Linked DNA regions of Homo sapiens. The protein of the gene in region 1 purifies or fractionates together with the protein of each later gene. This does not show direct contact. Each region holds a gene or a part of one and is shown on either strand. Other genes may lie near its edges.

Region 1 (4,419 bases):
AGACAACAATGAGACGTCATAGTTCTTCCACAGGTAGTAATTAAACAGTCTGCAAGCTTAAATGTCCAGTGATAGAAACTGTCCAGTCATGTAATCAGAAAAGCCATCAAGTGCACACAAGCTCAGGCAATGACAACAATATCATGACTGATTCCTAGACAGTATCTGTTGCATTATGTCATCAAATGTTAGACTGATCCTAGTCTCAGAGATGACAAAAAATTAAAAGAAAAAAATCGTGTCTTGGAATTGAGGAAATGTAGTTTACTTTCTTCATACCATTATTTCCCTGAACCTATTGTATTTCAAAATGATTTTTGACTGGCTTCTATAATTATTTATTCTAGGCACTATCAGGATAACTCCTACTGATTCTCGATGGGTTGGAGCTTGGTGGCTTAATTTCCTTGTGTCTGGACTATTCTCCATTATTTCTTCCATACCATTCTTTTTCTTGCCCCAAACTCCAAATAAACCACAAAAAGAAAGAAAAGCTTCACTGTCTTTGCATGTGCTGGAAACAAATGATGAAAAGGATCAAACAGCTAATTTGACCAATCAAGGAAAAAATATTACCAAAAATGTGACTGGTAAGTATTTAACATTCATTGTCAATTTGGAGTTGTTAATCTCAATGAAAAGGAAGAATGAGTATTCCAAAATAATAAAGCATACCCAACTCATCTGGAGTTGGCTTTCTTTTGCACTAAATTTAGATAAATTATTTTTCTAAAACTCCTATTAAAGTTAACATATATGTCTTGAGCACATAACAAGTGGAAGAGAATTAGGTTTGTACTTTTTAGCAGGGAGAAACCAACAAAAGTTTACAAACATCCATTTTTTATGAGCCAAATAGTAAATATTAATTTTAGTATTATATGGTCTAAACTGGGAGAGTTCAAAGAATTATAATATTTCATTCCTTCATTTATTCAACAAGTAGTACCAGGAACTGTACTATGCCCTGGTAATAAAACATTACCTCTATTTTTCAAGAACCTAGTGGGTGATGCTGAGAAATATATAGACAATAGCAATATAGTGCCTTAAGTATTATGGTGAAATTAAACTTAACTATTATCAGGTGTAGAGATGGATTAAGGAGAAGGAAGTCGGGAGAAGTTTCTCCCTATGTAATTAGAGTAATATTTATTTTGGTAATTATCTATCTATCTATCTTATCTAAATATTCAAAATAAAGTGGAAGCAAAGGTGGTAGTTAAGATAATTAGACTAAGTAATGTAAATTAGGATGCATCAGCATTTGACAGTGCCTCCTCTTTTGAATATAAACCCTGGGACTAATGGAGAACCATTGAGAGTCAATAAACAAAGAGAATGACTTGGCAGTAGCCAGAGCAAGATATGTGAATCAGTGAGGTGTTGACAGCAGTTTTCAGATTTGGGAGAAATGGTGAAATAGCCAAAGCAATGCAACACTTAAACCCTCAGCATCTTTTTCAAGTTTTCTTTAAAGTAAGATGACAAATTCTCCAGTGTAGCCTAGGTTCTTCCTTTCATCAGGTCTTTTACTTATTACTTTATTGCTATTTTCTCCTTTCTATCACACTAACCCAAGAGCAGTGGTGTTCTGGTACTCTTTATATTGGCTCATAGCAGAGGACTGTTAAGTTTCAGCTACATTGGTAGGTTGAAATTGTTCATGGCAAGAGAATTACCATGATTTATTACCATGGAAATTGGGATATACTACAAGTAGAAGTTTGTTTTCCTAAGAATCAGATGTTAAACATTTATGTTTTTAAAATTTAACATTCACACTAAAAGTACTATACCAATAATTTTCATTTTGTATATGATGTTTCTACTGTACCAAATCAAATCTTTAAAAAATAGTAGATTGTCTAAACCTATAAGGAGCGGGGTTGACTGTGATCCAAACAGAACAGAGAGGATAATGAAGTTGTAAAAATAGGACAATTGTAGACATAATCTCTATTATGAACAGTTTTTGTAGGTGTGACCCTAAGAAAGAGGATCTTAAGTATGTATCTATTAGGAATGGATAAAATAAGAATATATAGTCAGAAAAAATATTGAATTTATTCCATATGCTCTTGAATAGAACTAAAACTGATTAGAATGAAAAGATGATTTCAGTTCATTACAAAAACAGTGTGTAAACAATGAGAACTTTTCAAAAGTGGAGGAAATTGCTTCCTAAGGTACTTAGTTTAATGCCACTTAAGTTGTTTATTGATCCACTTATTAATGATATATAGTAGATCATGACTATACAGAAGTTTACACTGGATGACATTGAATTTCTCATCCTCAAAAATGCAACGCTTGTGTGAATGTATATACTCCATTTCTGTTGAAGAAAGGCCACAACTCACTTATAATACTTACAAATCAGGGATGGTTTTTCATGACTGGGGAGACCTGTGGAGAGAAATGTGGCACTTTTGCCCAAGAATTTTAAATGTTGTTTATTCCCACTATACATTTTCTTATCTCTTCTTTTTTTCTTTTCTGTTTCTTTTCTCTAACTCCTTCTACTCCTTATTTCAAGCAGATGCAACTGTTTCGTAGCTGACATTAAATGGATGTCTTAGTTCTGACCATATCTAATGAAAATCTTTAGAGATTTAAATAGAGAAAAATATTTCAAAGTCCGTATCATCCAACTCTCAGTAACCATATCTTGGCTCTGTCTTGATGAACTCTGATACTTCCTACTGTTTTTCTAAGTAGTTCCTTCTACTTTTAAGTCCTATTACAGCTAGTTGACCTGGTGATCACAGATCCAAATGACATAATTTCTACCATGAACAGAAGTTAGAAGTTTGTTACCACAGCTGTTTGTAGGGATAGGTGGTTGTATTATTACTATTATAATACTACTTGGGACACAATATTATCCCCTGGCTGCTTTCCTTGTATCTTAAGACAGAGGGTTAATAATATTGCCAAATTTACTGAGAAAGTATGTTATGGTAGAAGAGCTGTATACTAGAGAAACAGGAGGTCTGAGTCCTCATACTAAATTAATCTTTAAGAATTTTGAACCTCAATGGTCTTATTTCTGTGAGTTTTGAATTATGCTGTCTTTACATTTCCATTTAATAGTTATATTTTTAATATAATACTTATATCATTAAGTACTAATAAATAAGAAACATCATATGTCTTATTCACTTTTTGTTTGTTTGTTTTTGGGTTTTTTTGTTTGTTTGTTTGTTTGTTTGTTTGAGATGGAGTCTTGTTGCTCTATTGCCTAGGCTGGAGTGCAGTGTCACCATCTCAGCTCACTGCAACCTTCGCCTCCCTAATTCAAGCAATTCTCCTGCCTCAGCCTCCCAAGTAGCTAAGATTACAGGTGTGTGCCATCGTGCTGGCCAATGTTTGTATTTTTAGTAGAGTTGGGGTTTCACCATGTTGGCCAGGCTGGTCTCGAATTCCTGACCCCAGGTGATCCATCTGCCTCGGCCTCCCAAAGTGCTAGGATTACAGGAGTGAGCCACTGTGCCCGGCCTTCACTTTTGTTTTTTGAACAATTAGCATATTGTCTGGTACCCAGTTGAAAACCTAACATTTGCTGAATGAATGAATAAGTGAATTAATATGTTTGCAATAGTATTGTAAAGTACCCAGGATAACCAAATATTAAGTGAAGAAAGCAAGTTACAAAACAGCACTTACGTATGACCCTATTTGAGGGTAAAATAAACTAAACTAATAAATATTAATATTCGTATGGAAAATATTGAAAGAATATATTTAAAAGCTGTGAACAGCCTGTGGTATTGCAGGCTATTCTCACTCTTTGTGTTATGTGTTTATAGAATTTTAAATCTTACATGACTTACGTTCACAAATTTTAGATATAAATGTATATTTAAGTTGCATTCAAATATTTTCTTTATTTTTACAATTTTACAGGTTTTTTCCAGTCTTTTAAAAGCATCCTTACTAATCCCCTGTATGTTATGTTTGTGCTTTTGACGTTGTTACAAGTAAGCAGCTATATTGGTGCTTTTACTTATGTCTTCAAATACGTAGAGCAACAGTATGGTCAGCCTTCATCTAAGGCTAACATCTTATTGGGTAAGACATATTTTTTACTTGTGTGCTTAATAAGTGAAATAATACTAAATACTGTATTCCAAGTGGTATTTTATTGTGAAAGTGATTTTGTATTTTAGTAATACAGGATAAGTATAATTTTCTTGTATTCTTTCTCAAATGTTATTAAACATATAAAACTTGTGATGTCACTATTGCTCTGCATTTGAAGTTGCATCTTATTTTAGATGAGTTCCTGAAAAAAATGTTGCAAATAAATGGACAATTTAGAGGTAGTATCTGTATAATTGGATCTTATAATTTAGTGCTAAGATCTGAGACAAACCCTTTTGTAATTATAATCATTATAATTCTATAATTTATGGA
Region 2 (4,419 bases), on another chromosome or scaffold:
TCTTCCGGGTCCCAGCCGTGGTTAAGGAGCTGTGCACGACACGGGTGCTGGGCATGGAGCTGGCTGGAGGGGTCCCCCTGGACCAGTGCCAGGGCCTAAGCCAGGACCTGCGGAACCAGGTATGCTGTCTGGTGGCACAGTGGGAAGGGCATGGCCCCAGGGCGGGTGGGCCAGGCTCATGGTCTCTCTCCAGGCCAGCAGTGGCACCACAAGGGAGATCACACTGAGATGCCTGTTAATTCTCCCCACCCCAGATTTGCTTCCAGCTCCTGACGCTGTGTCTGCGGGAGCTGTTTGAGTTCCGATTCATGCAGACTGACCCCAACTGGGCCAACTTCCTGTATGATGCCTCCAGCCACCAGGTTGGTTCCTAGTGATGTGTGTCTGGGTACATTTGCTGTTGTAACAAATATTCCTTGATATTTCGGTAGCTCAACAAAATAGCAGTTGATTACCCCCACAATAGGCAGGGGTGGCCCTTTTCCAAGTGGGATTCAGGGACCCAGCTCCTTCCCTTTTGTGGTTTTGCCATCCCTGGGGCCTTGCAACGCTCTGCTTCCCAAGGAAAGGGTAAGAGAGGTTGAGGGTAGCCCCCTGCCTAACTGCTTTGGCCAGAAGTGGAAAAAGTAATGCCCAGGCTAAATACACTAAGCTCATCCTGGGGCAATGGACATAGCACTTCCGTTGCCATTCCATCAGTGAGAGCTAGTGACATAGCCTGCCTAGGTGCAAGGCATGCTGGAAAATGGAGTCCCTGGCTAGGCAGTGGTTCCTGGTGGCAATGTGACAGCACAGAGGGGAAGTACAGCTTTTGGAAGGCAGTTAGCCATCACTACCACACTCGTCATCCATACAGAACACACCATCACCTGCCCTTGCCTCTTGACAGCAATAAAAAGACATCCCTGACCCTTGCCTTCTCAGAGTGCCCAGTCCAGTGGGGGGACCTGGCACCACACAGCGATGACCTAGAGTGGTTCGTACCAACCACAATGAGGAGCACAGGCCAGATGGGTCAGGACCGGGATGGGGGAGGCACAGGCAGAGGGGTGGGGGCTGGAGTTGGGGGAGGCACAGGAAGTTATGGGATCCCAGGGAAAGTGCCTGACTCACTGTGGGGTGAGCAGGGATTAAGGGAGGCTTCTTAAAGCAAGTGCCATTAAAGCTGAGGCCACTGAGAGGCTGAGGTGGGAGGATGGCTTGAGCCCAGGAGGTCGAGGCTGCAGCGAACCAAGATCATGCCACTGCACTCCAACCTGGGTGACAGGGCGAGACTCTGTCTCACCAAAGAAAAAAAAAAAAAGCTGAGACCAGAGGCTGAGCATGGTGGCTCATGCCTGTAATTCCAGCACTTTGGGATGCTGAGGCAGGAGGATCCCTTGAGGCCAGGAATTTAAAACCAGCCTGGGCTCTATTTAAAAAAAAAAAAAAGGCTGAGATGGGACAGGGGAAAAGGAGACAACCATCCAGAGAGCAGAGTGTTCCCAGCAGAGGGCAGGGGGTGTACAAAGACCTGTAGTGAAGGTTTGGACCTGCAGACTTGAGTGTTGGTGGATACATCATTACCTTTATCAGGGGTTGCCAACTGTTTTCCAAAGTGGTCTATCCCCATTTTGTCCCCAGAGGGGTCTTTCTAAAGCACAAATCTGGTCAAGATATCCCTCCTACAGCTTCACAGCCCCCTCAGAATCAAGTCTGAACCCTTTGCTGAGCATCCTGTGGCCCCACGGAGTCTCCAGCCCTAGTCCCTTGCCTCTTCTTTCTCCACAATGTGCATACACCCTGTGTCCCCTCCTAGGTTCATACCCCAGGGATATGTTTACCCAACTCCAAGTGATAGGAGTCCTGACATCAATTTATTGGTTTCCAACAGGACTTTTTTTTTTTTTTGAGACAGAGTTTTGCTCTTGTTGCCCAGGCTGGAGTGCAATGGCACGATCTCAGCTCACTGAAGCCTCTGCCTCTGGGGTTCGAGAAATTCTCCCACCTCAGCCTCCCAAGTAGCTGGGATTACAGGTGCCCGCCACCACACCTGGCTAATTTTTTGTATCTTTAGTAGAGATGAGGTTTCACCATTTTGGCCAGGCTAGTCTTGAACTCCTGACCTCATGATCCACCAGCACTTTTTTTTTTTTTATGGAATAGATGATGTCAGTATGTCACAGATGGGAGGGATCCATATTATTTTGGGACACTTTTCTTTTTTTTCCCCGAGATGAAGTCTCGCTCTTGTCACCCAGGCTGGAGTGCAATGGTGTGATCTCGGCTCACTGCACCCTCCGCCTCCCAGGTTCAAGCAATTCTCCTGCCTCAGCCTCCCAAGTAGCTGGGATTACAGGTGCCTGCCACCACGCCCAGCTAATTTTTGTATTTTTAGTAGAGATGGGGTTTCACCATGTTGGCCAGGCTGGTCTCGAACTCCTGACCTCAGGTGATCCGCCTGCCTTGGCCTCCCGAAGTGCTGGGATTACAGCCATGAGCCATTGCGCCTGGCCTTGGGACACTTTTGTTTGACGTTTTTGTGTGCATTTGCATGAACGCCCAGTAGAAACTCTCTCTCTCTCTCTCTCTCTCTCTATATATATATATATATATATATATATATAATTTTATTTATTTGTTTGTTTAGAGATAGAGTTTTGCTCTTGTTGAGAATGGAGGCTGGAGTGCAGTGGCACAATCTCGACTCACTGCAACCTCCACCTCCTGGGTTCAAGTGATTCTCCTGCCTCAGCCTCCCAACTAGCTGGGACTACAGGCGTGCGCCACCACACCCAGCTAATTTTGTATTTTTAGTATAGGTGGGGTTTCACCATGTTGGCCAGTCTGATCTTGAACTCCTGACCTCAGGTGATCCGCCCCCCTCAGCCTCCCAAAATGCTGGGATTACAGGTGTGAGCCATCACGCCCAGCCACCAGTAGAAACAATTTCTTACTGTGGGTTGTGGTCAGTTCAAACTCTACTGCCCTAGAAACATTCTTACAGGTGTTCATTGAGCACAAAAATTAGAAACAGGCCAGGTGAGATGACTCACTAATGTAATCTCTGCACTTTGGGAGGCTGAGGTGGGAGGATCACTGGAGCCCAGTAGTTCGAGACCAGTCTGGGCAACGTAGTGAAACCCTATCTCTACAAAAAATGTTTCAAACTTAGCCAGGTGTGGTGGGGTGCACCTGTGGTCCCAGCTACCCAGGAGGCTGAGGCGGGAGGATCACTTGAGCGTGGGAGTTTGAGGCTGTAGTAAGCCATGGTCGTGCCACTGCACTCCAGCCTGGGCAACAGATCAAGACCCTGTCTCAAAAAAAAAAAAAAATGTCAGAACAGAGTTTATAACTAATAAACATATTTAAAAAGAAGGAAAAAAAATCAGAAACAACCACAGTATTCCTCAGCCAGATAAATGCACTGTGATAGATTCACGCAACGAAGTCCTTACACAGCAGTGTGAAATGAGTGACTGAGCTGGAGCGACACATGGCAACAGGGATAAATCGCAAAACCATGCTGGGCAAAAAGCACAAGTTGCAGGAGAACGACAGTAAATACCACTTCTGTGAAGTTTGAAAATATGCACACCATTACTCTAGATTGTTTACAGCTGTACACATACATAGAAAATATAGAAATGCATAAATGAGAATTTCAGGAAATAATTTAATAATGATTGTAGGAAAGAGGTGACCCTGGGGACCTGGGGGAGGTGTGATCAGGGCGGGATACACAGGAGGCTCCACGTGGATGGGGAGTATTTTTTTTTTTTTTTGAGACGGAGTCTCACTCTGTTGCCCAGGCTGGAGTACAATAGCACAATCTCGGCTCACTGCAACCTCCACCTCCCAGGTTCAAGCCATTCTCCTGCCTCAGCCTCCCAAGTAGCTGGGATTACAGGCACGCACCACCGCACCTGGCTAATTTTTGTATTTTTAGTAGAGACGGGATTTCACCATGATGGCCAGGCTGGTCTCAAACTCCTGACCTCATGATCCACCCACCTTGGCCTCCCAAAGTGCTAGGGTTAGAGGTGTGAGCCACCACGTGTGGCCGGATGGGGAGTATTTTATATTTTAGGCTGGGTGGCAGGATTTGTGAGTATTCATTTTACTTTTCTATATCTTTTATTATTCTCTGGATTTTTTTTCTGGGTCTAAAATTTGTTATTGCATAAACAATTAGAACTAAAAGAAAAAAAAGCCTTCAGCTAGGGGGTCGGTTGGAAACGGGAGATGAGGCCAGGAGCCCAGTGAGGCAGCCAGGCAGGGACTCTGGCAGGAGCAGGCAGGGTCATGGGGAGGGAGACAGATCCTGGCTGCCCCAATAGACAGTGAGGGTGTGAATGGGATCCCAGCATTCCTTTCACCATTCCTTGCTTCCAGGTGACCCTGCTGGACTTTGGTGCAAGCCGGGAGTTTGGGACAGAG
Region 3 (4,419 bases), on another chromosome or scaffold:
ATTTCAACATGTAATCAATATCAAAATTATTGAAGTATTTTACATCATCTTTTTGTACTGTCTTTAAAACCCAGTGAGTATTTTACACTTTCAGCACATCACAGTTCAGACTAACCACGTTTTAAGTGCTCAGTAAACAGTGACTACTCAATTAGATAGTGTAGTTAGAGTTAGTATCTAAGTTATAAAGAATTTTTACAAACCAGTATACATTCCAGTAGGAAAATGGACAAAGGAATTGAATACAAAGTTCATAAAGTTGTTCAAGTGGCCAATAAAAATGCAAAAATGTTCCATACTGAAAAACAGAGACTTTAAAGGGTTTTACTTCTCACTGCCTATTTCATTTTGGCCGAATTTTTCATAATGATAATACCCCATATTGAGGGTGTGGGAAAACAGGAACTCTCTTAACTACTGATTGAAAACATAAACGGTTTATGCCCTCTGACCTAACAGTTTTTACTCAAAAGGATTTACTTTAAAGAAATAATCAAAATACATATTAAAATGTTTGCAGAAGTTTATTATAGTAATAAATTGGTAGTTCATAGTTATGGAGAGTGGGAAACTGAAATATATTATGATACCTTTATTATGGGCTGGTGATGTATACAACCATTTTTTTAAAAAATTATAATTCAGGGCTGGGTGTGTTGGCTCATGTCTGTAATCCCAACACTTTGGGAGGCCGAGGTAGGGGGATCACCTGAGGTCAGGAGTTCGAGACCAGCCTGGCCAACATGGTGAAACCCCATCTCTACCAAAAATACAAAAACTAGCTGGGCATGGTGGCGGGCGCCTGTAATCCCAGCTACTTGGGAGACTGAGGCAGGAGAATCACTTGAACCCAGGAGGTGGAGGTTGCAGTGAGCTGAGATTGCGCCACTGCACTCCAGCCTGGGCGACGAGCGAAACTCCATCTCAAAAGAAAAAAAAAAGTTATAATTTAGAAGAATAGTGACATGGAAAATACTCTTGTGTTATTAGGTAAAAACTGTAGAAAAATACAGTGAAAATATATACTGTGATATTAACAGTGAGTTTGTCTAAAAATTTTTTTATTTGTGTTTTACAAATGATCTACAGTACACATATACTTCTAAAGAATAAAAATGTTACTTAGTTTCTGTAGTAAGTATATCCTTTTTTATAAAAAGTTCTTTGGGTTAGGATAGAGCACATATTTCTTTTTTTCATGTATTTATACCTTGCCTCATTTGGCAAAAATTTGAGAGGGGAAGACACTTAAGTATACTAGATGAACACTGAAATTAATAAAAGTGTAATTTTTAAATAGAAAATAGAAATCAAACATACTATGTTATTATTGTCTCCAATCTGCTAGTATTTATTGTCATAAGAAAAGTAGGCTGAGAATTTAACTTTTATCCCCAGCAGAGGTCCCTCCTCCTCCTCAACCTCTTTAAATAACTAAGAGTATTGACAGTTACAAAAGACCAGTCTGGCCAACATCGTGAAACCTCATCTCTACTAAAAATACAAAAATTAGCTAGGCATGGTGGTGGGCGCCTGTAATGACAGCTACTCAGGAGGCTGAGGCAGGAGAATTGCTTGAACCCGTCAGATGTGGTCTCAAAAAAAAAAAAAAAAAAAGACCATTTAGACTGTCAATGCTCTTAGTTGTTTAAAGAGGTTGGGGAGGAGGAGGGACCTCTGCTGGGGATAAAAGTTAAATTCTTAGTCTGATTAAGAGAGCATTGACAGTTATAAAAGACCATTTAGGGCTGGGTGTGGTGGCTCACACCTGTAATCCCAGCACTTTGGGAGGCCAAGGTGGGCGGATCACCTGAGGTCAGGAGTTCTAGACCAGCCTGGCCAACATGGCAAAAACCTGTCTCTACTAAAAACACAAAAAAATTAGCTGGGCATGGTGGCAGGCGCCTGTAATCCCAGCTACTTGGGAGGCTGAGGTGGGAGAATTGCTTGAACCCAGGAGGCAGAGGCTGCAGTGAGCCGAGATCGTGCCATTGCACTCCAGCCTGGGCAACAAGAGCAAAACTCCGTCCCCCCACCAAAAAAAAGACCATTTAGGCAGGCAGACAGGAAGATTCTATGCAGATCAAGTTCATGATAGAATTTATTGTACTTAAGTATAAAATGAAGCTAACTGTAGTATGTGCCTCCTAGAGTTTTTGTGAATGAGAATCATTCAGCATTGGATGCCAGGCATTATAGTTGCTGATAGTGTAGTGCTGAACGAGGTGGATGGTTTCCACCTTTCTTCCACCAGAAATAAATATATTTAAAGTGCCATAGAAGAGATAGGCAGGATGATGGGCTAGAAAGTAGCCAGGATGGGCTATTTCATTCGATAAGATGGCCTAGGACTCCAGCTTTTCTGAGGTAATGACTGAGCCTAGGCATGAAAGATGAAAATGAGCAAGCCACGTGAAGGTCTGGGAGAAAGAGCAATTTGGGAAGAGTAAAGAGGAACTGTAAAGATCAGACTAGTATGTATATATGTATGTATTTTTGAGAAAGGGTCTTGCTCTGTCACCCAGGCTAGAGTGCACTGACAGGATCACAGCTCACCGCAGCCTTGACTTCCTGGGCTCCAGTGATCCTCCCACTTCAGCCTTCTGAGTAGCTGGGACCACAGGCTAGCGCCACCATGCCCAGCTAATTTTTATATTTTTGTTAGAGACTGGGTTTCACCATGTTATCCAGGCTGGTCTCAAACTCCTGAGCTCAAGCATTCCACCCATCTCGGCCTCCCAAAGTGCTGGGATTTTAGGTGTGAGCCACTGCGCCTGGCCCAGACAAATAGTTTTAAGGAGCAGAAAGAAACCTGTTGTGTCTAGGGTATGGTGGGGTGGTATGAAAATAAATTTGAGTTTTTTTATTTTTTGTGGTTTTTTTTGAGATGGAGTTTTGCTCTTGTTTCCCAGGCTGAAATGCAATGGTGGATCTCGGCAGACTGCACCCTCCACCTCCTGGGTTCAAGCAATTCTCCTGCCTCAGCCTCCCAAGTAGCTGGGATTACAGGTGTTAGCCACCACGCCTGGCTGATTTTTGTGTTTTTAGTAGAGATGGGGTTTTTCCATGTTGGTCAGGCTGGTCTCAAACTCCTGACCTCAGGTGATCCACCTGCCTTGGCCTCCCAAAGTCCCATTACAGGCGTGAGCCACTGCACCTGGCCGAAATTTGAGTATTTTAAGCCATAGGCTTAGAAAAAGAGGAGTGTTTTAAAATATCACTCTGGCCCAGTCGTAGTGGCTCATGCCTGTAATCCCAGCAAAATTTGGGAGGCCAAGGTAGGTAGATAACTTGAGTCCAGGAGTTTGAGACCAGCCTGGGCAACATGGCAAAATCCCATCTCTACAAAAAAAAATTAAAAAATGTAGCCAGGTAGGGTGGCACACGCCTGCGGTCCCAGCTACTCAGGAGTCTGAGATGGGAAAACCACCTGAGGCTGGGGAGGTTGAGGCTGCAGTGAACCATGATTGCACCACTGCCCCAGCCTGGGTGACAGAGCAACACCCTGTCTCAGAAAAACACAGGTGGGTGCGGTGGCTCATGCCTGTAGTCCCAGCACTTTGGGAGGCCAAGGAGGGTGGATTACCTCAGGTTAGGAGTTCAAGACCAGTCTGGCCCACATGGTGAAACCACATCTCTGCTAAAAATACAAAAATTAGTCAGGCGTGGTGGCACATGCCTGTAATCCCAGCTACTTGGGAGGCTGAGGCAGGAGAATCACTTGAACCCGGGAGGTAGAGGTTGCAGTGAGCTGAGATCACGCCACTGCACTCCAGCCTGGATGACGGAGTGGGACTCCATCTCAAATAAATAAATAAATAAATAAATAAATAAAAATGAAAAAGAAAAATAGAATTAAGCAAGGCAGTAGAGAGGTATGTCAAGATGCAGTCTAGGAAGTTGTCATCATCTCCTATTGTTTCCTAACTCAAAAAAAAAAAAGATTCTCTGTTTTTTACTCTGCTCTGGCGAAAAGTTACATCAGCAGTGGTCTTCTAGACTGAGCTACTCCATCCAGGTCACACTTTTGCTTGCTACATGATTAAGGATAAAAAGGATTTTCCTGTAGTTTTGGCTAGCTGAAAGGATTAAAGTAAACCAGAGATAGTCAATCTGTTAATGGTAGACTATATTACAAATTGTGATAATGATGTTAATAAGACCTTGATGAAGTTCCAGATAATTTAGCTATGGACACATTCTTAGGTTTTTTTTTTATTATTATGGGCATTTTTTTTAATACAGGGAAAGTATAAGGTATAAAGTAAAAACTATGCATAATTCAGATATTTCACCACATTTTTAGTAGTTGAAATCATACTGTATAAGTCTTCCGCTTTTTTTATGCAACATTATAACATGAGTGTTTTTCCTTGTTATTAAAAGTTTTTAATGAATACATAATAAAAGTATAGTTAC
Region 4 (4,419 bases), on another chromosome or scaffold:
ATCATATGGGGACGGCTTCGCAGGCGTGTCTCTCTCATATGGGGACGGCTTCGCAGGCGTGTCTCTCTGATCATATGGCGACGGCTTCGCAGGCGTGTCTCTCTCATCATATGGCGATGGCTTCGCAGGCGTGTCTCTCTCATCATATGGGGATGGCTTCGCAGGCGTGTCTCTCTGATCATATGGCGACGGCTTCGCAGGCGTCTCTCTCTCATCATATGGCGATGGCTTCGCAGGCGTGTGTCTCTCTGATCATATGGGGACGGCTTCGCAGGCGTGTCTCTCTCATCATATGGCGATGGCTTCGCAGGCGTGTGTCTCTCTGATCATAGGGGGACGGCTTCGCAGGCGTGTCTCTCATCATATGGCGATGGCTTCGCAGGCGTGTGTCTCTCTGATCATAGGGGGACGGCTTCGCAGGCGTGTCTCTCTGATCATACACGTCAGCACGTGTGGCAAGTGTGTTGTTTGCATCTCTGTGTGGCTCTAAATGTTTGTTTTTTGAGACAGGGTCTCGCTCTGTCACCCAGGCTGGAGTGCTGTGGCGCAATCCTCCCACCTCAGACTCCTGCGTAGCTGGGACCACAGGCATGCACCACGGCACCTGGCTAATCTTCCTGTTTTTTATAGAGATGGGGTCTTTGCCATGTTGCCCAGGCTGGTCTTGACTTCCTGGGCTCTAGTGATCCACCTGCCTTGGCCTCCACAGGGCTAGGACTGCAGCCGTGCACCGCCTCTGTGAATGTTCTGAACGACGGGGCATTTGTCAGCTTTGCGTCCACCCCAAGACTTGTTTTGAAATGGTGAGGTTGAAACTCACAGGTGTCCCTTAAATGTGATGTGCGGTAACTTGAGTTGTTGAGGTTTTGCTTGTGAATTTCTCATTCTTCTTTCCCTTTTTCGTTCCAGAGCGCCGCCCTGTGCTGGGCTGCCGGGAGCTCGTCTTCAGGAACCTCTCCAAGATCCTCCCTGCCCTGTGCCACGACATCACCGACTGGGTGGTGGGGACCCGAGTGAAGTCGGCACAGCTGCTCCCAGTGCTGCTGCTGCATGCCGAGGACCACGCCACGCAGCACCTGGAGGTCGTCCTCCGGACCCTGTTCCAGGCCTGCACCGACGAGGAGGCAGCCGTGGTCCAAAGTGTAAGTGGCCGTATTCCAGTCGTGGTCGCGGAGCTGTAACTCGAGCTTAAGATCCCGCCTCTGTGGTGTGCGGGGCCCGAGGCTGTACTGTAGCCAAGACAGCGTTCCCCTCACCCCCGGGCCGCAGGCCCTCCCCACACCCAGCCCCTGGGAACAACTGATCTCCTTTCTGTGCCCGTAGGTAACAGCGTGTTGAGGGTGAACCCTTCATGCTCATTTTCAAGCACACTCGGGGGTGCAGTGCCAGGTGCATGTTGTGTAGACGTGTTGTGTAGACGTGCCGTGCACCAGACAGACAGGGCCCGGGCTGCTGACACAGGACCGAGATGCCCAGCGTTCAGCATTGACATCTGGACTGTCCTGAGGGCCCTTCCAGGCCTCGCAGGGGCTGTGGGAGCACCCAGACGGGGGATGATGGCACAGCTTCGGGTGTCCTGCGAGTGGTGTCCCTGGTGCAGTCCTCTTTCTCACTCCCTGTCCACACTCGGCTGCTGGTTATCGCCTCGTCACCACTGGGTACGCACGAGGGAGTCCCATGCTCAGGCCTCTCCTCCTCACTAGGCCGGGCCACGCCCTGCGCTGACAGTCACCACCATGAGGACTTCACACCCACCTCACAAGGATGCTTCCTAGTGCTCAGGAGAACAACTAAAGCTTTGACTTGAGATTTCAGTTGAAAATATCCTCATCTTGAACCTTAAATTCCATTGCAAGGTAGCCTGGCCAGCAGCTTTTACTTCTAGTGGTCCAGGTCACTGTTACTAGCCCAGCGTAGTGGCGTGCACCTGTGGTTCCAGCTCCCGGGAGGCTGAGGTGGGAGGATCGCTTGAGCCCGGGAGTTTGAGGCCTCAGTGAGCTATGATTGCGCCACTACTCTCCAGCCTGGGCGACGGAATGAGACGCTGTCTCAGATAAAACAAAAAAATCTAAATCATTGTGACTGATTTAAAGTAAATGTTCCAGGTTCCATGTTATTTACATGTCATGTTTCTGCTTTTCAAAAACTACCGTGAATTTAAAATTGTCTGTAGTTCTCTGTGGAACCTACAGGAGAGCAAGAGACACGGGGGTGAGGCTGAGAGGACGAGAGACGTGTGTGGGATCCGCTGTGGAATCCCACGGTGCAGAGGGGCTGGTGTGTGTGTGATCCACTGTGGAATCCCACAGTGCAGAGGGGCTGGTGTGTGTGATCCGGTGTGAAATCCCACGGTGCAGAGGGGCTGGTGTATGTGTGATCCGCTGTGGAATCCCACGGTGCAGAGGGGCTGGTGTGTGTGTGATCCACTGTGGAATCCCATGGTGCAGAGGGGCTGGTGTGTGTGTGATCCGCTGTGGAATCCCACGGTGCAGAGGGGCTGGTGTGTGTGTGATCCGCTGTGGAATCCCATGGTGCAGAGGGGCTGGTGTGTGGTGTCCACTGTGGAATCCCATGGTGCAGAGGGGCTGGTGTGTGTGTGATCCGCTGTGGAATCCCACAGTGCAGAGGGGCTGGTGTGTGTGTGATCCGCTGTGGAATCCCACGGTGCAGAGGGGCTGGTGTGTGGTGTCCACTGTGGAATCCCACGGTGCAGAGGGGCTGGTGAGTGTGTGATCCACTGTGGGCTTCCACGGTACAGAGGGGCTGGTGTGTATTGATCAGCTTAGTGATGGGAAGGTTGGGTCACTGGTGTCCGATGAGGGGTGTGTGGTGAACCCCACAGCTGGGACACAGCATCCTTTGGGCCAGACTTCACTGCCTGGGAGGCGTGTCCGGCTCGCTGGCCTCAGGGACGTTCTGAGACCACACCCGGACCCTTGTACCTTTCCTGAGGGCTCTGAGCATGTGCCAAGGACTCACTCTGCCTAACACGGGGCTCTGTCTGGTGCACGGCTGTGTCTGGGAGGCCACGGCGCCGAGAGCAGGAGCCCGGCTGAGACCCTCGGGTTTGGCTCTGAGTTTTCTCATGTTTCTTTCTCGCAGTGTACCAGATCCGCAGAGCTCGTCGGGACGTTTGTCAGCCCTGAGGTGTTTCTGAAGCTGATCTTATCGACGCTGAAGAAGACGCCCTCTGCCTCCGGCCTCCTGGTGCTGGCCTCCGCCATGCGGGGTTGCCCCCGAGAAGCCCTCCAGCCGCACCTGGCAGCCATCGCCACAGAGCTGGCACAGGCCCACATCTGCCAGGCATCTGAAAACGTAAGAGCACTTGGGAGATGCGGGAGTGGAGAGGAGGAGCCTCCCCTGCCCGGCCGTCAGCCATCGTAATGACATGTCTGTGGGTTGCCCTGTGCCGCCAGGCTGGGCTGTCGGAAGCACCCAGCGACGTGTCTGTGGGTCCGCCCCGTGCCGCCAGGCCGGGCCATCGGAAACACCTGCAGTAACCGGAGTGCCCTCGCTGATAGCCCTTGTTCCGGGGCCTCGTCCTGGGCTGTGCAGAGCTCCAGCCCCAGCCCCAGCCCCAGCTGCAGGCGGCCGCTCACGTTTACATTCGTTGCTGCCCCTTTCTTGGCCACACACCACAGTTCACGTGTTTGATGACTCAGGAGGCGTCCATGGCCGGGACCCTCTGGCCCATGCTGCTGGGGGTAGATGTGGGGTCCACGTCATCCCACCCCTGAGGAGCGTGGTCGCACGTCCACCATCCCATCCAGTCCCCAGGGTACCTGCACAGATCGCACGTCCTCAGGGGGCACTGACAGCCTGTTCCCCATCAGCCCTGCCTGGCGTTCCGATCTGTGCTTCTCACAGCCCAGCTGAGGATTTGCCAGAGACATTTGTTTAATTTTAAATTGAGCAGCAAATCCTTGAGCTCAGAAGCTGGAACAGCCTGGGTAGTTGGGCTCAATTGTTTGGAATAATCCATAGTTGTATTCCATGGAAGAAGAGGTGATGGCTTTGCTTTCATTTGAAGGTGAGTGGTCCCTGTCAGTGTGTGTGTTGGACTCAGCACCCCAGATATTTCTGGGACACAGGGCTGCCCCCACCAGGCGGCCGTGCCATGCAGGGCGGGCCTCAGCTCACCCCTGGAGGCACTTGCTCCGGCTCGATCGTTTCCGGCGGCTTCTATGGCCCCAAAGCTGGCCTGGGGCACGGGGACTTGCCACTGTGCTCTCAGCCCGGCCTGTCCTGTGTCAGGCTCCCTCTCCGTCCTCAGAACGAGAGGTGGGGCTGTTGACAGTCATTTTTGTAAACTGTTTTAAGAAACCTGTAAGCAGTTCCTGGAATACATAGAGGGAAGGAAACGGAGCTGGGGTAAGGAAGGGAGCGGGGGAGGGGCCCGGGCCGCGTGCTCATGGCATT
Region 5 (4,419 bases), on another chromosome or scaffold:
TTTTTTTTTTCTAGCAGAGTTCCTGCCTTTTTATTGGTTGTTGGCAGGAGTTATTTGTAATAGCCTTGATATTAGTTTCGTGTTCTTCTTTCAGTCTATTATCTGCCTGTTAACTTTGTCCAGGGATTCATTTGCTGAGCAGTAATCTTTAATTCTGATGTAATTTAATGTGTAATTTTTGCCTTTGTGGTTTGTGTTCTTAGGCTTTTATTTAATAAGTCCTTTCTTGTGCTTATGTTACAAACTTATTGTACTCTTCCTTCTATCAACTTTAGTTTTATTCACATCTAAGTCATTAAGTCTTCTGTAGTAGGTCTTGAGTATGTTGTAAGGTGTAGGGATCTGTCATTATGAAATAAAAGAGGTGTTTCCCATTACCATCTTCTGTACAATGTGTTTTTCTTCATTGATTTGTGGAGTAATCGTAATCTTTATTGTATATTATTTCCATATATACACAGGTCTGTCTTTGAATTATCAATTGGGGTCCTTTGGTTTGTTTACTTTTTATACAAATACCATGCTGTTTTTCTTACTACAGCTGTATAGAGTGGCTTGATATCCAGTAGGGAAAGTGCCCCTCTTCATTCTTTATTGTCAAGGTTGACTTGGCTATTTGTTTATTATTTCATAAAAGTGAGTCAATTTATGCAGTTCCTCAAAAAAGTCGAGTGAGAATTTTGGTTGTGATTCGTTGACTTTCTGTATTAATCTGGGTAGAATTATTATCTTCATAGTATTGTCATTCTGTTCAGATCATCCACTGTGTCCTTTTTAAATGTTTTTCTTCATAGATGTCCTATGAAGGACCAAAACATTTTATTCCAAACATTTTAGTTATTCTGGCAGTCTTGCAAAATGCTGTTTTGTTTTTGATAACCTACTATTGTTGGTTAGTGCTGCTAAGGAGAAATGCTATTTATCTTTCAAAGTTGATCTTGTATCTGGCCTAGTTGGATTTTTAAATTTATTTGAATAGTTTCTTGATTTTTTAATAACTGTTTTAATCTAACTTCTCCAATATATACATACTTTTTCCATTTTATTAATTTCTCAACTCCCAGTTCGAGTCCCTTTGCTCCCACCCCTTTCCCCCACCTTCTTTTAATCTGTTTGATCGATATTGAATTTCTTATTTTCCTTCAAAACTACCAGACCTTTTTGTGGCTGCCTTTGTATGGTTTCTTCACTTTAATGCCCTTCCCCTTCTTCTTGTTCTTCGTCTGCTCAAATATCATCATCTTTGTGAAGAATTTCCCTTCTGACCCAGGCAGAATTGGTTGCTGTTATCTCTGTGTTCCTAATACAGATAGTTCATATTCTTTCATGGGATTTGCCGGATTTCATAGTAATTTCTTTTTCTATGTTTGATTATTCCGCTGACTCTTCACTAGGACTCCTCTCTTTCTTCTCTCCTTTTTGCTCCTTCCCCCTCAATCTCTTGTCACTGCTGTGATGTTCTCAATCTCTTGTCACTGCTGTGATTGGCTATGTTCTCAGGCAGGATCCATCGACAGAGAAAACCAGTAGCAGCTCTATCCATACATAGTTCTTAGCACTCACAATCTCAGAAGGAGAGAGTGCCTCTTTTCTGATAGTTCCAGAAGTGCTGGGAAGGATTTTGACAAAGACCATTTTTATTGGCCAAACGTGGATCACCAGAAGGCAGAGTCGTGCCCCATCCAATCCACATGTATGGAGGGGAGGGAGGTTCTCAGGAGGACAAAAGGGCTGCTTTTGCCAGAAGAACAGGAGGTGGATGTTGGTCAGGCAAAATCAACAGAGGACAGCTGTAAGCCAGTCAACAACATTCTGGATCCTTCTTTCATGAAATTCCCTTTACATTTTTGTTGCAATGAGTATTCCATTTGTGCTTATGAATACATATTACCTGACCTCAGCATTCTTCTTCCTCTTTGCTATCCTAAGTTATATATGCCTTGTACGCTTTGCTGATGGATCTATTAAGGAAGGTATTCAATAAGTTTCCAGTCAAAATGAAAACAGTAAAGATCCCTCCATCTTTCCATTTATTTATCCATTGAGTACCTATTATATACTAGAGTTGAGAATATAAACAACAGCAAAAATGAAAGGTTCTCTAGCTAGAGTCTCATATATTATAGTAAGAAAGATTTGTAAGTAATTGCCACTCATACTCCAGGTTTTAAATGCCACTTTTTAAGAGACGCTTTCTTTTGATCCCATAGTTACTATCAGAGTGTCCTGTAATCCTCTCCTGTTATTACTTGTTTTTTTCCTTTATAGTCCTTTTTGGAGTGATTATTATTTGATTTTTCTTTTTTCCACTAAATTGTAAGCTTCATAAAGGCAGGAGCCTTGTCTATTTGTTGATGGATATGTCCCCAATATGTAGCATAATGCCTGTCTAGAGATAGTAAGAATAAATTTTTAATCAATATTTGTTGAACATCATATGAGCAAAAATACTGTGTGATAAGCAATTTGATATAATTTGTTTCTCTGGGCCTACGGAAGACACACATGGTTCTGTTTAGGAATTTGGGGAAATGGGTTTTTAGCTTGCAGTGACTCTTATTGTCATGTTGTATTGCTTCAGTATTCTTATGTGCTGGAAGCTTTCCTTACCTCCCAGCATCAAACCCTCTACTCTTCATTCTTCTACATTTATAGGATTCCACGGTAAGAGAGGATGATCCAAGGTTAACACTTTTTTTGTTCTCTCACTTCTGATTGTGTTTGGCCCAATTAATTTTGAAGGAGAAGAACACTTTTTTCTAAATACGTATTCTTTCCCTAAGGTTATTAGACCTAGTAATTATTAATAGTCATAGATTTTGGTTTAAGCAAAACTAAAACAATTTAGTAAAACAATTTGTTTCTAGATCTGAGGCATACAGTAAGATGTTAAATTGTAAACCACCACAGCTGATTCTTTATTATTGATGCAATGACAAAATACATTTGCAGTCTGGCACGATGGCTCATGCCTGTAATCCCAGCAGTTTGGGAGCCCCAGGCAGGCAGATCACTTGAGCACAGGAGTTCCAGATCAGCCTGGGCAACATGGTAAAACCCCCTCTTTGTAAAAAAGACAAAAATTAGCTGGGCATGATGGCGTCTGCCTGTAGTCCCAGCTACTTGAGAGGCTAAGGCAGGAGGATCACTTGAGCCTGGGAGGTGGAGGTTGCAGTGAGCCAAGATCGCGCCACTAGGTGTCAGCCTAGGTGACAGACACAGACCCTGTCTCCAAAAAGAAAAAAAAAAAAGACAGAAAACGTTTGCAAATGTATTGGACATAGTCATCCATCTGCCTATCTAAATAGGCTCTAACTCACAGCCAAGTATTTGTTATGTCAGGATTTGGCTTTAAACTCTGACCCAGGTGAAAAGCCTAGCCAGGAGACTATTGTGTATGGATTCCAGACAGGCGTGGGCTATGTTTTGAATGAATGATTATTGTGATACAAAATTTTTGGGGGTTCTGAGCACCCAAATCAAATCATCATTAGTAAATCATAACATGACATGAAACATCAAGTTTGTCTTTCATTCAATTCATGAAAGAAGAACAAATACAAGAATTGCTTTATTTTATTTTTTAAATTTTTTATTTTTATTTTTTGAGACAAGAGTCTCACTCTGTTGCCCAGGCTGGAGTGCAGTGGTGTAATCTCAGCTCACTGCAACCTCCACCTTCTGGGTTCTAGTGCCTCAGCCTCCTGAGTAGCTGGGATTACAGGCATGTGCCACTATGCCCAAGAATTGCTTTTTACAGGTTAATTTTTACAACAGTGATTATGGAAATTTCAGGAAAGAGATTGTTCTACAATACTTTAAAAGTCAGATTTCTGAGTAGAGCTGAGCTTTATTCAACCACGTAATAAGGCTAATTGCGTGGGTCTCTTGTGTTTTTCTTTTTTTATATGTCATTTTTAAATATATTTCTTTTTCTTTCTTTATTTTTTGTTTTTGAGATGGAGTTTCGCTCTTATCGCCAAGGCTGGAGTGCAATGGCACGATCTTGGCTCACTGCAACTTCCGCCTCCCAGGTTCAAGCCATTCTCCTGCCTCAGCCTCCCTAGTAGCTGGCATTACAGGTGCCCGCCACCATGCCCAGCTAATTTTTTGTATTTTTAGCAGAGATGGGGTTTTACCATGTTGGCCAGGCTGGTCTCAAACTCCTGACCTCAGGTGATCCACCCGCTTTGGCCTCCCAAAGTGCTGGGATTACAGGCGTGAGCCACTGAGCCTGGCCTTTTAAACATATTTCTATCAGTAATAACTCCTTAAGATATCTGGTAGAATTTAAATTTTTCTAGTTCTAGAATCAAGTCATCATTAATTTGTTTAATGAGCTTTCATTTAAGTAGGTGTTAAGTATTTTTCTTTGTTTTTCATAATTATTTCATTTTTATAAAAATATTTTAGTATTCT
Region 6 (4,419 bases), on another chromosome or scaffold:
TAGGTGAGGAAAGTTACTCTCAAAAAGTAGATGGATTTATTCGAATATAAATATTAGCATTTGGTAAATGAGAGAACCTAGGACTTCTGACTCCAAGCCCAGTGCTTTTACTCTTCCCCAAAGTTTTCTTTCTTAAAGTTCTTACTTAGCTGAAAAGAAACAATTGTGGTGGCTGTTTGTAGCAAATCATTGATTTTATGTTGAAAGGGCCAGTTTGGGTCTATAACTGTGCTTCTCAAAGTGTCATCTCTCTGGACCTGCAGTGGCATCATTTGAGAACTTGTTAGGCCCCATCACAGACCTACTAAATCTGAAACTCTAGATGTGGAGTCCAGTGAGCTCTGTTTTCATAACCTCTTCGGATGATTCTCTAATGCCCTCTAAAGTTTGAAAACCACTGGTCTGTAGGCTTTTTTTTTTTTAATGTGGTAAAATACATATAAAACTTACTATCTGAACCATTTTCAAAGTGTACAGTTCAGTAGCGTTAAGTACATTTACATCATTGTTAACCAATCTCCAGAACCCTTTTTATCTTGTAAAAGCAAGTCTCTGTACCCATAATTCCCCATTCTCCTTCTCCCAGTCCCTGGCAACCACCATTCTACCTTCTGTCTCTATGAATTTCACTACTCTAAGTACCTCATGTAAATGGAATCAAAATGTATTTGTCTTTTTGTAGTTGGCTTATTTCCCCTAGCATAATGTCCACAAGGTACATTAACGTTGTCACATGTGTCACTTTCCTTTCTTTTTAATGCTGAATAGCATTCCATTGTATGTATTTACCACATTTTGTTTATTCTTCTATATGTTGATTGGACAATTGGTTTGCTTCCACATTTTTGCTGTTGTGAATAATGCTACCATGAACATTGATGTACAAGAATCTGTTTAAGTCAATACTTTTAATTCTTCTTAGTATACACCCAGAAGTTGAATTGCTAGATCATATGATAATTCTGCTTAATATTTTTTGTTTTCCTCAGCAACTACATTATTTTACATTTCTACCAGCAATTCATAAGTGTTCTAATTTCTCCACATCCTCACCAACACTTGTTACTTTTGATGGGGGAGCATTTTTGTTTTTGTTTTTATGATAGGCACCTAATGGGTGTTAGATATCTTTGTTTTTATTTGCACTTCCCTAATGATTAGTCATGCTGAACATATACTTATTGTACTTATTGGTCAGTTGTGTATATTCTTTGGAGAAATATTTATTCAAGTCCTTTGCCTGTTTTTTAATTTAATCAAGGTGTTTTTTGTTGTTGTTGAGTGATGGGCTGTTGTAATTCTCTTAAATGTACTTTTAAAATGGTTAGAACAATTCAGAAACTCAGTTGTAAATTCAAGTGGTTGAGAATGTTAGAGTTGGAATTGGCTATGACTCAATCTTATGGCCTTGGGCAAGTTTAGTCTCTTTGTCATTTTGTCTCTTCAACTATAAAGTGACAAGATTAGAATATAAGTCATTCGGGAGCTGTATTTTACAGAGATCTAGGGAGCAGGTTTTTTTTTTCATATCTACATATTGAGAAAAGATCCTAAAACCCCCTATACTAATGGAAGTTACATTACCATTTCCTTCTTCTCTCCCTACCTACACTTAAAATTACATAGTAATAATATATCTTTATAGTGGAATTGATTGCTGAAGTATTCAATCATTAAAAGAGTTTGAGTGATTTCATCTATTCACAATAAATTTAGGGGCCTCTTTGATCTCAAATTTACCACAGTTTAGGAGTTTATTGATTTTATCAATAGCTTTGGGGTTTATTTGAACTGGTTCATTACTGTTGTGAGATATTGACAGCATTATATACTCATAAATGCCTTCTTGACTATCTGTCTCTTTAAGAACATCTATTTTAAGTACATGTTGAAATCATACATAGTCTCCAGATGACAGCATAGCAATAGAAACTTCTGTGTTTTGTTCTCTGGTGGGGAGACTTCTTCTATTAGATACTTACCTTATATACCTCTTACTGTGTTTTACTATCCCAGAGTATTTGATAATTAATCTGTAGAATTCTATACATGACACATAACAGTTGCTTCTGCAAGCCACATATGTTCTATAACATGAAGACTCTCAGACCATATGCCTTCAAACATATAACTGTAGTAGAGTCCTTTGTAACCACTTTAGTTGAAACCACATAACTAATCATAAAGGTCAAAGTGGATAATCCTAAAAACAAAAACCTATGTACCTTAAATATTTTATTTTAACCTAAAGGATATAAATATATATTCATTGACAATCAGTCTTTTTTAAAGCTAAATCTTTTATTTGTGTATGGATTTCTGAGCTCCACATTTTCTATCCTGGATAAATTACACTACAGTGCATCCTATATAATTTCCAGCTTAGTTTTTTTAAAAAAAAACAATTTATTAAATCATGTAAATTACATTAACAAGTAAAACTGGCATAAATAGATTGGGGACAAACATAGTGACTTGGTAAAAATACAGCTCATCTGGTGGGAGCAAAAACGCATGAGTGCAATAGAGACAGTGTTAAAAACACAGAAGAGAAATGGCCATGTATATGCTGATGTTAAAGAAAAATGGCGTAACAGCCAAGGCCGGGCATGGTGGCTCACACCTGTAATCCCAGCACTTTGGGAGGTTGAGGCGGGCGGATCACCTGCGGTCAGGAGTTTGAGACCAGCCTGGCCAACATGGTGAAACCCCGTCTCTATTAAAAATACAAAAATTAGCCAGGCATATTGGCACACGCCTGTAATTCCAGCTACTTGGGGGCTGAGGCATGAGAATTGCTTGAAACTGGGAGGTGGAGGTTGCAGTGAGCCTAGATCGCACCATTGCTCTCTAACCTGGGTGACAGAGTGAGACTGTCTAAAAAAAAAAAAATGATCTAACCAAAAAACTAAAATTATAAGTTTTTCTGATATTTATACTTTTAAAAAATAATTCATTAGAAGCCCAAACCTCAGCATCACACAATATACCCATGTAACAAACCTGCACATATACCCCAAATCTAAAATTTAATTTAATTTAAAAATGATAACATTGGCAGAAAACATCAAAGGAAGAATCTATACAAATGACCTTAACAGCTTTTAGGTATCTTCCATGCTAGTGGTTAGTGGTTCCTGACATATATAAAGAGTATATAAATTCATATGTGAAATAGGTAGACCAAAAAAAACCCAAAATATATATGTACGTGTAATGCATACATATACATCTTATCTATATATGTACTACTGACTTTCAGATATGTGAGACTGCTTAGTGTACCTAACAAAATAAAATTAGTTCAAAAAGCAGTTTTTTAATTCATTGTGCTTTTTTTTTGTTGTAATCTACATTTTCTTAATGAATGGACACTAAAATTATAGCTGCTAACTTACGGAAATCTCAAAAATGTCTTGTGCTTGATTTAAAGTTAAAACTATTACTCCACATTTGTGATACTTTTTTTCTTTCTATGCGTTAATGTGTAGGGGTTGGTGTGTGCTGGATTGGCTGATATGGCCAGACCTGCAGAAAAACTTAGCACAGCTCAATCTGCTGTTTTGATGGCTACAGGTAAATTAAATAAATATCTTCTGTGTTTCTTGTAGAACATAAATGATTTTTGTTTTCTTTTATATCAGTTTATTTAGTGGCTTAGTGTTTGAAATACACCCACACACAAAGGAATTAACAGTATTATGTCTAGGAAGTTATTAAGTTATGGATGGAGGAGTCACAGAAAGAATAAGTATCTGAATGGGCTTTTGCTTTTCAGGTTTTTGCCATGAACATATTTTTATAAGTGGGAAGAAAATTACAGTTAATAGTCACTTTAAAGATTCCTCTTTCATGTAAGAATTGAGTATTTTCTGTGACACTAAGTTACAGAAACATTGAAAATTCAGAGTATAGCATTTCTTTGTCCCTCATCCTACATTATTGTTGTAATTACTTTACTCAATATTAAGTATTCACTGAAGTTATTGAAGCAGTATGTATTCTTTTTAAAGTAACATTTTGTTTCAACAGGGTTTATTTGGTCAAGATACTCACTTGTAATTATTCCAAAAAATTGGAGTCTGTTTGCTGTTAATTTCTTTGTGGGGGCAGCAGGAGCCTCTCAGCTTTTTCGTATTTGGAGGTAAGCCTACCAGAGATATTTTTAAAACTGTTGCAAAAGCTACTTAGATGGCACTAATTTTTTTTTTTTTTGAGACGGGGTCTCGCTCTGTTGCCCAGGCTGGAGATGGCACTAATTTTTTTAAAAGATTCATATATAATGCTAAGACAAGAAGTATCTAAAGTAGAAATTTAACATTTCTAGAAAAGTCTAGGGGTTTACAAATAAGTTAACCAGTTAACTAGTTAACTGACTAAAATCAGTTAAGCAGTATGTTACCTAGTTTTTAGATTTAA
Region 7 (4,867 bases), on another chromosome or scaffold:
TGTTTACTACCTGTTTTCCCTTTTCCTGACACACTAGAATGCAATCACCCTGCAAGCAAATTTTCCACTATATCTCCAGTACCTGCTAAAGCAGGTGCTCATACATATTTGCTGAAAGAATTAATTACCAGATGGCAATTGTATATATTTTGTAATATCCTTACTTGGCAGAATTAAAAGCTGCCAATTTTGTGTAAGTCCCCATTTTAAAAAACAGGGCTATTTGTAAGCCCAGGACTATTGTGATAGATGAACTGGCTGCAAGCCCCTTACAACATAGGTGTTATAAGGAAAACAGGAGAAGGGAGAAAGAGGGACAGTGGATGGGTGGAGGGAGAAGTGGAAGGTGGGTGACTGGGTGGATGTGTGGGTAGGTTAGTGGCCAGATGGATGGATGAATGGGTGAGTGGATGAATGGTGGATGGGTGGATGCGTGGGTGGGTGGCTGGATGGGTGAGTGGGTGGATGAATGGGTGGATGGATGGGTGAGTTGGTAGATGGGTGGGTGAGTGGGTGGGTGGATGGGTGGATGAGTGAATGGGTGGGTGGATGGATGGTGGATGGGTGGGTGAGAGTGGATGGTTAGGTGAGTGGGTGGATGGATGGGCAGGTGAGTGGGTGAGTGGGCGGATGGTAGATGGGTGGGTGGATGGGTGGGTGAGTGGGTGGATGGGTGGATGGATGGATGGAGGGTGGGTGGGTGGGCGGATGGGCAGGTGAGTGGGCGGGTAGATGGGTGGTGGATGGGTGGGTGAGTGGGTGGATAGATGGATGGATGGGTGGATGGTTAGATGGGTAGGTGAGTAGGTGGATAGGTGGATAGACGGGTGTATGGATGGGTGAGTGGTTGAATGGGTGGATGGTTGGACGGGTGGGTGAGTGGGTGGATGGGTGGATGGATGGTGGATGGGTGGGTGAGTGGGTGGATGGGTGGGTGAGTGGGTGGATGGGTGGGTGAATGGATGAGCGGGTAGTGGGTGATTGGGTGAATGAATGAGTGTCTGGCTGAGTGAGTGAGAGGATGGGTACCTCTGGGAAGGTAAATCCAAGTTGCAGTGTAAGTTGAGCCAGGGGAGGTGGCCACAGTTGGCTCCCTTAGGCCGCCCACCTCGTGGGGTCACCAAGGGGTTACTTCGGGGCAGAAAGGTGCGGCTGTGGGTCGCCCCGCCCGGGTTTCCAGCAGCAGCACCCCAGCCCCCACCCAGCACACAGGCACCCCTCCCGCCCGGGCCCCAGACGCGCTCAGGCCGCCCCCTGAGGGCGCCCGTTCTCAGGTGAGCTCCCGGACTAGCGCGCATGCGCACAGGTGAGTGCCCGCCCCGCCCCCGGGCTTGGCCACCTGCCCAAGAAACTTGTTGGTTGTTGCCCTCAGGTCGCTCCCGGGCGGGGACACGGAACCCGGCCATGGAAGATCCGTCGGGGGCTCGCGAGCCCCGGGCCCGGCCGAGAGAGCGGGACCCGGGACGGCGCCCCCACCCAGACCAAGGCCGCACCCACGATCGACCGCGGGACCGACCCGGGGACCCGCGCAGGAAGCGAAGCAGCGACGGGAACCGGCGAAGGGACGGGGACCGGGACCCGGAGAGAGACCAGGAGAGGGACGGGAACCGCGACCGGAACCGGGACCGGGAGAGGGAGAGAGAGAGGGAAAGAGACCCGGACCGAGGCCCCCGCCGGGACACACACAGGGACGCGGGCCCTCGCGCAGGTGAACACGGAGTTTGGGAAAAACCGCGCCAAAGCCGGACGCGGGACGGAGCCCGGGGACTGACCTGGGACGCAGCCGCGCCTCCTGGGCCCGCGCCCTGGGAAGCCCCGGAGCCGCCGCAGCCGCAGAGGAAGGGAGACCCCGGGCGCCGCAGACCCGAAAGGTGAGAGGGGCCGGGGCGCTGCGACCTCCGCGCCGGGGACACCTGTGGCCCAGGCCGGCCCGCGAGGCCCTGGCGTCCCCGGGTTCTCGTCCTAGGAGCCCGTTTAAATGAACAAATGCCGTTTCTCCCTTCTGCGCTCTCAGAGGCGACCTGGCAGGGAAGGAAAACTTTAGGGTTCCCCCTTCTCGTGGCCTGAACCCAACTAACAAAGCAAAAACCACCCCTGTGAGCAGTGGCTGGGCTGGAGGACCTGGAGAAGAGAAAGAGAGGCCCCGGGACCCGAGAGGGAGGGGTGGGAGGAGACCAGGCGGGTGGGGTTCACCCCAGGCTCCTCCCCGGCCCGGCCCGCATGGTCACAGGACTGCGCCTTGGGGTTCAGACCCTTGTCCCGTGTTCCAGAGCCAGCCCTTCCCGACTCCAAAGTCCCCTTCCTTGTGGCCGGGCCGCCCACTTGGGAAGCCCGATGAAGAGTTAATAGTTTAATGTGTTACCCCTCCCAGGAATAGGTGCCTTCAGAAACAGGTGGGCCGGCGCGGTGGCTCATGCCTGTAATCCCAACACTTTGGGAGGCCGAGGCGGGCGGATCACCTGAGGCCAGGAGTTCGAGACCAGCCTGGCCAACATGGTGAAACCCCGTCTTTACTAAAAATACAAAAACTTAGCCAGGCGTGATGGCAGATGCCTGTAATCCCAGCTACTTGGGAGGCTGAGGAGGGAGAATCGCTTGAACCCGGGAGGCGGAGGTTGCAGTGAGCCGAGATCGCACCACTGCACTCCAGCCTGGGCGACAAAGCGAGACTCCGTCTCAAAAAAAAAAAAAAAAGTCAGATGGGAGACGCTACATTTTTAACCAAAGAACAAAGTCTACGTAAAATTCTCCCACTGAAGGGTACAGGTTTGTTTTCCCTTTTGCCAGTGAGGTCTCTCTAGGCAGCGTCATTCGAATCCCACGGCTGCTTGAGACCGCACCCTCCTAATGAAAAAACTTTGCCATCTCTGCCTTGCACAGAATTCCCATAGGCCCCTTGTAAGGAGAAAGGTTCAGGGTGTACTGGAAGACTCTGTGAGCTAGGGGAGGGTGGGGGGGGAAGGGAAGACAAGAGGGGACCTGGTCCCCACACCGCCTCCTAGGGACCTGGTGTTTTTTCCATCCATTGAATACCCAGATAATGTGCCCCACACGGTGAACTGTGAGCAGATGGGATATCTCCCCTGCCAGCTCCAACAGGAGACAGGTCCGAGGTGACGACTGCTTCTGGTTTTTGACACCTGGCCTCTCCTCTAGGGAGGAGTCAGGCTCCCCTCTCCCAGGGACTTGGAGGCTGAGTCCAGTCTGTCTCCCTGCTATGTCCACACAGCGGGAGAGCTCCTATCCTGAGTTTATGTTACATTATCTAAAACTAACTAGCATAACAAAGGGTGCGCCCAGATACAGTCAAAGCTTCGCCCAGGGAAACAGCTGTTGTTTCCCTGACTAAAGCCCATTGCACTTGCAACTGCAGGACCTGGGAGAATTCAGAGCTGCATTTTTAGGTTTCTTTAAAAACCACTGTCCGAGCCGGACGCGGTGGCTCACACCTGTAATCCCAGAACTTTGGGAGGCCGAAGCGGGCAGATCATTGGAGGTAAGGAGTTCGAGACCAGCCTGGCCAACACTGCGAAACCCCATCTCTACTAAACATACAAAAAAATTAGCAGAGCGCGGTGGCGCACGCCTGTAATCTCAGCTACTCGGGAGGCTGAGGTGGGAGGACTGCTTGAACCTGGGAGGCGGAGGTTGCAGTGAGCTGAGATCTCGACACTGCACTCCAGCCTGGGTGACAGAGTGAGACTCCATCTCAAAACAAAAAAAAAAAAAGGAAGACTGAGGAGGAAGAGGAAAGGTGTCCCAAGGAGAAGAATAGCTTCTGTAGTAACCCAGAGGCATGGAAAAGCAGTCATCTTTTGAGGGGAAGGGGGTAGTTCAGTATGGCTGGGTCTGCGAGCATGAGGTTGTGAGTGTAGAGAGATGAACAGGGGCCTCCTGTGCATGCTAAAAGTTTGAAAAATTTCAAACCTAAGAGAGACATGATGTTCTAGAAAGACTGTGGGAGCCTGGCAAGTAGAATGCAGCCCCCTGTTGAATCTTGGACAAAGCCCAGGATGTGCTGCATAAAGCAAGGAGAGAAGGGACAGAAAATGCTAGGGCTGCCAGAGGAGGAAATGATGTGATGATGTCAAAATCCGTGGTCTGCAGCTCCCATGCTCCTGGAGAGTTATTGCTGACTCAACACTTTCCAAAGTAACAAAGGGAGGAAGAGAATGCCTGCCTGGGCATCAGAGTCATGTGAATGCAAACTGGTTTTGAAGAGGCCTGGTGCATGCTGAACTGAGAACTTGCACTCACAGGAAGGCAGCTCGCAGCTACCTGGTGAGACAGCTCCCAGGGGCAGACAAACCATCAGCGGTACCAATCACAGCATCTGTCACGTGGTTAGTGGAGCTGGGCCAAGTATTTGGATGTCCCGTGGGGCCACTAAACCAGAGAATTCTCTGGAGTTTAAAATACCGGGACAAATTCTATTTCTGTTCTGCTAATATTTGGGCCCAGCACGAGGAGTCAAGAGTTCTAATCCTGAACGCTATTGAATGAGACACCCCCTAATGACCATGTATGCTTTTTGGTTATAGTGAACCCCCTTCGGAGAGATATCTGCCCTCGACCCCCAGGCCTGGACGAGAGGAGGTGGAATATTACCAGTCAGAGGCGGAAGGACTCCTGGAATGCCACAAATGCAAATACTTGTGCACTGGGAGAGGTGAGCCGTTTTGCAGGCTGTTTGATCATTTACTGTCACTGGTGGTTCTGGAAGGGATGGTCTGAGCTGGTGAAGCAAAAATTTAAGCAGATTCCCTTGTGGGTTCCTAGCATTTTCATTTCTGTACTTGTGAGGTTCTTGTTTTCTTAAAAAAAAAAAAAAAAAAAAAGGAGGAACGTCTCAAAAGTGCTGCTAGAT

The links.
Region 2: the proteins of SLCO1B1 (region 1) and COQ8B purify together in Homo sapiens (affinity purification with mass spectrometry; one large-scale study listed by BioGRID and IntAct). This does not show direct contact.
Region 3: the proteins of SLCO1B1 (region 1) and SLC30A9 purify together in Homo sapiens (affinity purification with mass spectrometry; one large-scale study listed by BioGRID and IntAct). This does not show direct contact.
Region 4: the proteins of SLCO1B1 (region 1) and DNAAF5 purify together in Homo sapiens (affinity purification with mass spectrometry; one large-scale study listed by BioGRID and IntAct). This does not show direct contact.
Region 5: the proteins of SLCO1B1 (region 1) and DYM purify together in Homo sapiens (affinity purification with mass spectrometry; one large-scale study listed by BioGRID and IntAct). This does not show direct contact.
Region 6: the proteins of SLCO1B1 (region 1) and MPC2 purify together in Homo sapiens (affinity purification with mass spectrometry; one large-scale study listed by BioGRID and IntAct). This does not show direct contact.
Region 7: the proteins of SLCO1B1 (region 1) and MARVELD3 purify together in Homo sapiens (affinity purification with mass spectrometry; one large-scale study listed by BioGRID and IntAct). This does not show direct contact.

The regions. Positions count from the first base shown.
Region 1 is NC_000012.12:21,196,599-21,201,017, forward strand, and holds part of SLCO1B1 (solute carrier organic anion transporter family member 1B1), read left to right. Parts: intron 1-347; coding exon 348-590; intron 591-3,909; coding exon 3,910-4,074; intron 4,075-4,419. UniProt on the Homo sapiens protein: Mediates the Na(+)-independent uptake of organic anions.
Region 2 is NC_000019.10:40,696,010-40,700,428, reverse strand, and holds part of COQ8B (atypical kinase COQ8B, mitochondrial), read left to right. Parts: coding exon 1-119; intron 120-254; coding exon 255-362; intron 363-4,374; coding exon 4,375-4,419.
Region 3 is NC_000004.12:41,993,230-41,997,648, forward strand, and holds part of SLC30A9 (proton-coupled zinc antiporter SLC30A9, mitochondrial), read left to right. Parts: intron 1-4,419. UniProt on the Homo sapiens protein: Mitochondrial proton-coupled zinc ion antiporter mediating the export of zinc from the mitochondria and involved in zinc homeostasis, zinc mobilization as well as mitochondrial morphology and health.
Region 4 is NC_000007.14:753,680-758,098, forward strand, and holds part of DNAAF5 (dynein axonemal assembly factor 5), read left to right. Parts: intron 1-909; coding exon 910-1,142; intron 1,143-3,102; coding exon 3,103-3,315; intron 3,316-4,419. UniProt on the Homo sapiens protein: Cytoplasmic protein involved in the delivery of the dynein machinery to the motile cilium.
Region 5 is NC_000018.10:49,334,645-49,339,063, reverse strand, and holds part of DYM (dymeclin), read left to right. Parts: intron 1-4,419. UniProt on the Homo sapiens protein: Necessary for correct organization of Golgi apparatus. Involved in bone development.
Region 6 is NC_000001.11:167,919,704-167,924,122, reverse strand, and holds part of MPC2 (mitochondrial pyruvate carrier 2), read left to right. Parts: intron 1-3,491; coding exon 3,492-3,576; intron 3,577-4,032; coding exon 4,033-4,144; intron 4,145-4,419. UniProt on the Homo sapiens protein: Mediates the uptake of pyruvate into mitochondria.
Region 7 is NC_000016.10:71,624,826-71,629,692, forward strand, and holds the start of MARVELD3 (MARVEL domain-containing protein 3), read left to right. Parts: upstream 1-1,358; 5' UTR 1,359-1,404; coding exon 1,405-1,871; intron 1,872-4,541; coding exon 4,542-4,669; intron 4,670-4,867.